Linked DNA regions of Homo sapiens. The protein of the gene in region 1 purifies or fractionates together with the protein of each later gene. This does not show direct contact. Each region holds a gene or a part of one and is shown on either strand. Other genes may lie near its edges. The genes, in order: CCR3 and FGR.

Region 1 (4,188 bases):
TAAGGTGGAAACTGAGCCCCTTCCTCCCTTTCTTCTCTTTCTCTCAAATTCTCTCCCTATTCTTTCTCTCTCTCTCTAATGCACATGTGTGTGCGCTCTCTCTCTCTCTCTGTCTCTCTTATCCTCCTTCCTCTTTCTTTGTCTTTTGTTCCTATGTTTTCTTTATCATGAAGCATACAGCACAGTCCTACACACATATCAAACGTTTGATAAACACTTTGGTGCATTACACTCATTTGTCGAGTTAGTCAGTGTATCAAAGATCACTTCATGCTTAGTCAGAGTTCTTCCCACAAATATTGGGTGAATACCTGCTCTGTGCCCAGTGCCATGCTAGGTCCCAAGGGACACATCAGCACATACAGCAGGCACATGGCTCTGCCCTGTGACGCTTTGCCCTGAGACATGGCTCTGCCCTATGACGCTTATGTCACAGTGGCATTCTACCCACACTTTACATTTCCTTAGCCCTGTATATTCTGCAGAGACTTTTCACATATTTATCTTAGTTGGTTCCACGGCAATGCTATGACTTAAATATCATTATTTCCAGTTTAGAGATGAAAAAGCTGAGGTCCAGCAAGTTTAAATTACTACCCCCAGCTTATGTAGCTGTGTATGCCACAACTGAAACTCAAACTCAAGTCTTTTAGACTTGTCTAAACCTTTGCAGCCACATTTTGCCCCATCCAAGTGTCTACTGGACCCTGCAGAATAATTAGTTTATTCCTTTGCCGGGAAATTCTTATTTCATTCTTCATCCTGTCTCCCGATGAGTCAAATCAATGCTTATTCAAGAATTATAAATCCCAGGTCTTTAGGAGGCCGAGACTCGCAGATCACTTGAGGTCAGAAGTTTGAGACCAGCCTGGCCAACATGGTGAAACCCTGTCTCTACTAAAAATACAAAAATTAGCCAGGCATGGTGGCATGTGCCTCTAATACCAACTATTCCAGAGGCTGAGGCAGGAAAATCCCTTGAACCCAGGAGGTGGAGGTTGCAGTGAACTGAGATCATGCCACTGTACTCCAGCCTGGGTGACAGAATGAAATCCTGTCTTAAAAAAAAAAAAAAAATTATAACAACCCCCCACCACTAAAAATGAGCAATGCCAATGGGTGGAGAGCCCCTAAAGCAGCACTAATTGCAAGGATTTCTCAGGTGACTGGTTAGTATGTGGTGTCAATCATGAAAAAGAAGAACTGCACGAAAGTATCTTTCTGAAAACTTGCAAAACTGAGAAGCTAGTCTGTTTAAAACAGGAAGTTATATACTTACATTGTTTACTACTTTACTAATGTCTGTGATCTGATGGTATCTCTGTTTCAGGAGTGGTGACGCCTAAGCTATCACTGGACATATCAAGGACTTCACTAAATTAGCAGGTACCACTGGTCTTCTTGTGCTTATCCGGGCAAGAACTTATCGAAATACAATAGAAGTTTTTACTTAGAAGAGATTTTCAGGTAGGTGTCGCTTTTCCAGGAAAAGGGAGGTGGAACAAGGAGGGGTCCAGGCAGGTGGAAGTAGTAACTTCCAGCAGTGCTCTTGGATCTAGGAGGGAGGAGAGGAAGGTACACAGCAATTTAGAGGTAGTATGGGGCCAGAGTGGGAGAAAATATGGCCACATATCTCCATTTTCTTCTTGCTTTTTCTAATTTTCCCTTTCTGTCTCCCATCCACACAATGATAAGTTTGCGTGTAGCACTCACCCAAACTTGGCCCTTTATACCTCTTTAGTCAACATCTGTGCCCATGTTACCCTCCTATACTTTCACAAATTCTCAACTATGTGCATATGACTACTCCAAAGAGCTTACACTTAATAGCTTGTGTTTATTTATATTGACTTGTAAGAAATAGCAAAAATATAATTTTACATATATATGTGTATATATATATATATACACATATATATATATATATATATACGCACACACACATACATTTTTATATATACAAAGTCCTCCCTCAGTATCTGTGAGGGATTTGTTCCAGGACCCTTGCAGATACCAAAATTCATAGATGCTCAAGTTCCTTATATAAAATGATGTAGTATTTGCTGATAACCTACAAATATCCTCCAGTACCCTTTAAATACAAGTACCTAGATTACTTGTAATACCTAATACAACGCATACAGAGCGCTTCATTCATGTGGAGTCAACATAGCACTTGCTGCGTGGCAAATTCAAGGCTTGGTTTTTGCAACTTTGTGGAGCTTTTTCCCAGATATTTTTGATCCGTGATTGGTTGAATACACAAATGTGGAACCCATGGATACAGAGGGCTGATTATATACATATGTGTGTGTGCATTAAGTATGTATGTGTGGAAATATATATATTTATTTGAAGTTTTCATTGAAAATCCACACTAAATCAAGCTACTAGATGAGTCAGTTGATTGATTTGGTGTCTTTTTTTCTGGGTGAATGAGATTGTCTGTGTTAGAGGGTAGAGCTAGAAAGCCTTACCGATTCTTCTGGAAACGCCTGGATTGACAGAGGATGAGTGTTAACTTTGACAAGTACTTCAAGTGAGAGTGGTGGGAATAAGGGGTCTTCCACATGGATGTGGTATAAGTTGAAGTATATTTTTGAAGTGCAGCTCTTTCCAGAAAATGGTGATGATTACACTGAACCACGCAGGATGAGTTAGCTCTTCTGGGAGAAGAAATATGAGCCCTTTGTATGACTTAATAAGAAAAAAGCAGATCTGTACAGCAGAATAAATTGGGTAAAGGGCACAAAGAGATAAATCACAGGAAGGGAAATATGAATGACTAATACTTGTAGTTAAAAAAAATCAGTAATGAAATAAATGTTAATTACAACAATAATGGCAACCCTTTTGCCCATCTAATTGGCCAAGTAATTTTTTCTTTCTTTTAGATCTTCTCCATATTGATGGATGCTTGCTGAAATGGGCACCATCACCTACTAGTGCCAAGAGTATATATATTGTTACACACTTTCTGGAAGCAATTTGACAAAATGCATCAAGAGACTTCGAAATATAATTCAATGTAGAAATTGTGATTTGTGTAATATACCTTAAGGAAATAATTTTAAAATGCACACAAATATGTTTATTGCAGTATTATTTATAGCAGAGCAAATTGTGAATAACTTAATCACACAACAAAAAGGCAATGGTTAAATAAGCATGATTATCTATACAATATGTTGGAGTCATTACAAATTACATTTTTAAGTAATTTTTAGCCACAAGGAACTAGGTGAAAGGTAAAGAAGTTAAGGTATCAGAATACAAAATGATATACAAGTGTACTATCTTTCATGCGCGTCCGTGTGAAGAGACCACCAAACAGGCTTTGTGTGAGCAATAAAGCTTTTTAATCACCTGGGTGCAGGCAGGCTGAGTCCGAAAAGAGTCAGCGAAGGGAGATAAGGGTGGGGCCGTTTTATAGGATTTGGGTAGATAAAGGAAAATTACAGTCAAAGGGGACTTGTTCTCTGGCGGGCAGGAGTGGGGGTCACAAGGTGCTCAGTGGGGGAGCTTTTTGAGCCAGGATGAGCCAGGAAAAGGGACTTTCACAAGGTAATGTCATCACTTAAGGCAAGGACCAGCCATTTTCACTTCTTTTGTGGTGGAATGTCATCAGTTAAGGCGGGGCAGGGCATTTTCACTTCTTTTGTGATTCTTCAGTTACTTCAGGCCATCTGGGCATATATGTGCAAGTCACAGGGGATGTGATGGCTTGGCTTGGGCTCAGAGGCCTGACACTGTCAATTATAACATACATGGTACCTGGAAAGGCAGTGGCTCTCTCTCCATAGCACAGTTGGAGGTGGAAGCACTGGGTCCCAGAAAGCTGAAATTCTGGTCATGGTGACTATCCCACAACCATGTTATTTGGAATGTATATGCATACTTTCCTTGTGAAAACATATTCTTCATGACCAACTCCTTCAATAATCCAAAATCATTTGGCTGGTGGGCGAAACCCTGTCACTTAAGATGAACTGACCGCACTCAGACACAATTCTGAAAGACACAAGCATGAGGTGTAACTTTTGCATTAGTAACTATTATTAATGATTGGAAGCTCTGGAAATCCATGTGCTGCCCTAAAATACCAATTCTGGGAAATGTTTGTGGCTGGAAAGAAGACTGCATTCATTCATGATTTGAACTTTGAGAGGCTCTTCTTGTGTATTTCCA
Region 2 (4,035 bases), on another chromosome or scaffold:
ACTTGTCCAAGAGGTGGCCTTGGAGTCTGGACTCCAGGGTCCTGTCCATAGGGCTGGTCTTGCCCCAATCCCTACTTACTCTTCAGCTTGGATTGAGTCAACAGGGGCCACGTAGTTGCTGGGAATGCAGCCAGTTTTTCCGGAGCTGAGAGACCGAGCCTCCCACCAGTCACCTTCACTGTAGGCACAGAACAGGGCATGGTCAGCAGCACCTCCAGCCCCCAAGGCACCCTGAGGCCAGGTGGAGCCACACAGGTCTGCAGAGATGAATCCTGCCAAACCCTCATCTTGGACACCCCCCACCACTGGGGCTTTTGTCCGCTCTGCCCCAGCCACTGCAGCTTCCCTGGGAGGGCTTGTCCCTGCAGAAGGAATAAGCTCGGGGGCACTTAGGGCTCTTAGCTTCTTCCTTGGGCTCCCCAGCTGGGTTGGGCTGGGGATTGGGAATTCAGAGGACAGCTGACTAGGTCACTTCCCCACAGAAAATGGCTACTGATTTCCTTCTGGATAAAATCTAGACTTCTCAATGTGGCTTAAAAAGCCTGACAGAGACCAGGTGTGGTGGCTCATGCCTGTAATTCCAGCAGTTTGGGAGGCCCAGGCAGGCAGATCTCCTGAGGTCAGGAGTTCGAGACCATCCTGGCCAACATGGTGAAACCCTATCTTTACTGAAAATACAAAAAATTAGCCAGGCTTGGTGGCTCTTGCCTGTAGTCCCAGGATCACTGGAACCCAGGAGGCGGGGGTTACAGTGAGCCAAGATTGCACCACTGCACTCCAGCCCGGGAGACAGAGCGAGACTCCAACTCAAAAAAAAAAAAAAAAAAAAGCCTGGCAGAATCTGCCTCTGCCTACCTCTCTAGCCTCTGTTCTCTCCCATTCTGCATCCCATATTTTATGAACCACCTAAGGTGAACCACTTTGTGGTTTCCAGAAGTCATCATTTATTCTCATTCTCTCTCACTCTCTTCCTCTTTTCTTACCTCTTCCTTCACTGTCTATTCATTTTTATTTTTTATTTTTTAATTATTTATTTATTTTTTTGAAATGGAGTCTCCCTCTGTTGCCTAGGCTGGAGTGCAGTGGTGCAATCTCAGCTCACTGCAACCTCTGCCTCCCGGGTTCAAGTGATTCTTCTGCCTCAGCCTCTCAAGTAGCTGGGATTACAGGCATGCGCCACCATGCCCTGCTAATTTTTGTATTTTTAATAGAGACAGGGTTTCACCATGTTGGCCAGGCTGGTCTCGAACTCCTGACCTCAGGTGATCCACCCGCCTTGGCCTCCCAAAGTGCTGGGATTACAGGCATGAGCCACTGCACCCGGCCGTCTATTTCATTTTTATAGCCTCAGCTTAAAAATCATCTCCTCCAGGCCGGGTGCAGTGGCCCAACACCACCCCCCTCAACCAGCACACAGTTGCAGTCACCCAGGGTTTTTATTGTTATGTATATGTGTTCCCAACTAGGCTGGAGCATTCTGAGGCTAGGGACCAGGTGGGATTCCTGTCTGTGTCCTGCTCCCAGCCCAGGCAATGTTCTGACTAGGTGGCCTGGTCACTTACGTATTGTTCAGGATGTGGAACTTCTCGCCCTTGGTGAAGGTGAGGTCATCCTCAGTTCGAGCCTCATAGTCATACAGGGCAATGAACAGGGTCACCCCAATCCCTGCAGAGTCAGGGCTACTCAGCAGGGTAGGGCATGGGGCAGAAGCACCAAGGGGGCTGCACCCCAAATTCCTGTTCCCCAGCCAGGTGCTGCACCTCCCCACTCCTTTAGTGCTCTGGTTCCCAAAGGCCTTTGGGGTCCAAGGAATTTCTGATTTGGTCTCCACAGCTTAGGACACACAACTTCAAGCCCATTCCTCCCACCATGGAGGATCCCCTTGTTGCCCACTCCTCCTCTTCCCCACCAAGAAGACTTCCCATCTGGGAAGTGGCACCTAAAAGGGCAAGAAGTTTCTCTTTGTCACTTGCATCTGTCACAGGATCCTGCCCCTCTCAGACTGGGAGTAGAGCTTCTTGACCCTCCCCTGCAGACTGTGGTTTCTGATGGGAGGGCTGTACAGACTCCCTCAGCCCATGTGATCTTGAAAGCGGGGTTGTATCTGCCACATCCTCCTGGAGGCTCCTAAGGGCAAGTTCGCATCTCTTCTTCTTCCCTCAGTTTCTCCCAGGATCCAGGCAGCTCCTGCCTCCGACCCCTTGGACTCACCTGACACACCCCTGATGGTGCCACTATCAAGGAAGCCAGGGTTGATGGCCTGAGAGGAGAAGTTGCTGTAGTTGGGGATGTGGGCAAATGAGGATGCAGGCCGGGCCTTAGTGGGGTCAGGCCCATAGTGGTCTGCTGCCCCGTAGCTTCTGAAGTCCCCTTCCAGGCCAGCATCCTCCTTGGCCGTGGCCACCGGCTCCAATTTCTTGCAGAACACACAGCCCATTCCAGGTTCCCTGCTACAGAATGGGGCATGCCTCACTCAAGGACCCCTGCCAGGTGCACCACCCTGTGCACACACGCGCATGCACATGCTCATACGCTCATACAGGCACGTGGCTTTCCCTCTTGGGCCTAGATTGGGGTCCTCCCTGTAAGGGATAAAGGCGGAACTGGGCCACCTACTGTACCGTTCAGTCTGCCTCACAGTATGTCCCCCCTCAGTGCTTCTCTTCCCATTGGCTCATGTCTATATCTCTGGGGCTGGCTTTCTACATTGGGATATTGCTATGCTTATTTGCATATTTTTGCCTCCTATTGCTTTGCTTTTTTTGTTTTGTTTTGAGACAAGATCTCACTCTGTTGCCCAGGCTGGAGTGCAGTGGCACAATCATAGCTTGCTGCAGCCTTGATCTCCTGGGCTCAAGTGATCCTCTGGTCTCAGCCTCCCAAGAACTGGGACTATACAGGTGCGTGCCAGTACCCCTGGCTAATTTGTTTGATTTTTAGTAGAGACAAGGTCTTGCTATATTGCTCAGGTTGGGTCCTATTGCTTTGATATGTTGTGTTTCTGTGACTCTTTCAGTGTGCTTGTACATGTGCGTCTTTGTGTGTCTCTAAGTATGGGTGAGTTTGCCTGTGTGGGTATGCATGTGTGTGCAGCTCTTTGTGGATGTCTGTCTGTGTGTGCAGGTTTGTGTGTATACGAGAGTGTATAAAAGTCTCTGTGTATGTGTTTGGCTGCATGTGTATATGTCTGTAAGACCGTGTTTGTGTGCATGTGTTTCTGTGTGAGTATGTGTGTGCCTGTCTGTGTGAGTGGGTGTCTCTGTGTCTGTGTGTCTATGAATGTGCACCTATCTCTGTGTGGGAGCAGTGTGCCTGTCTCTGGATGTGTGTATCTCTGCATGTATGTCTATATATCTGCGCATGTTTGTGTGTGAGTGTGTGTGAGGCTGTGTGTCTGCACCTGGAGAGTCACTGCAGAGGGGGATCAAGGCCATTTCCTGTCGTGGGTCCAGCCTTCAGCCTCTCAAGCTGCCTCATTCTGGCTCCCCCATCCGTTACCTAGCAACAGGGTCCTTGTAGGAGGAGGAGGCTGTGAGGAGTTGTGGGGTTCAGGAAGGCCACCCCCACCCTGTTTCCTGACCCTGAAAGCCCTCAGTCTACCCCACTCACCCCTTAGGCCCCTACTCCTGGGTCAGTGGGGCTGCGGCATGATCCTTGGGAGGGGTCAGAGACCTGAGGGTGAGACAGAAGGACAAGGAAGATGAAGTCTCTGCCAATGTTTCTGTCAGCAGCTGCCCAGCTCCTGCCCTCTTCAGGAAGCCAGAAGGCCTGGGCTCTGCCCCAGCATGACTTCTGCCTTCACTTTCCTTCCTATCACCCCTGGCACACTTACACAACCCCCGTCACATAGGGCAAACCACCCACACCAGCTCTCTTTCACACTCATACTCACCTGACCCACCAGCACAGTCACACAATAACACTCACAGCATATATTTGCATGAGTGTGCGTGCCAACCCCATCACACGCCAATACAGGCTCTAACAAGCCCAAGCTCACAATAGCACACACACATACACATGCACATATACATG

What was found.
Region 2: the proteins of CCR3 (region 1) and FGR purify together in Homo sapiens (affinity purification with western blotting, with the first as the bait; one study listed by BioGRID). This does not show direct contact.

Annotation. Positions count from the first base shown.
Region 1 is NC_000003.12:46,241,072-46,245,259, forward strand, and holds the start of CCR3 (C-C chemokine receptor type 3), read left to right. Parts: upstream 1-1,388; 5' UTR 1,389-1,467; intron 1,468-4,188.
Region 2 is NC_000001.11:27,621,480-27,625,514, forward strand, and holds part of FGR (tyrosine-protein kinase Fgr), read right to left. Parts: intron 3,673-4,035; 5' UTR 3,610-3,672; intron 2,451-3,609; 5' UTR 2,438-2,450; coding exon 2,212-2,437; intron 1,666-2,211; coding exon 1,563-1,665; intron 179-1,562; coding exon 80-178; intron 1-79. UniProt on the Homo sapiens protein: Non-receptor tyrosine-protein kinase that transmits signals from cell surface receptors devoid of kinase activity and contributes to the regulation of immune responses, including neutrophil, monocyte, macrophage and mast cell functions, cytoskeleton remodeling in response to extracellular stimuli, phagocytosis, cell adhesion and migration.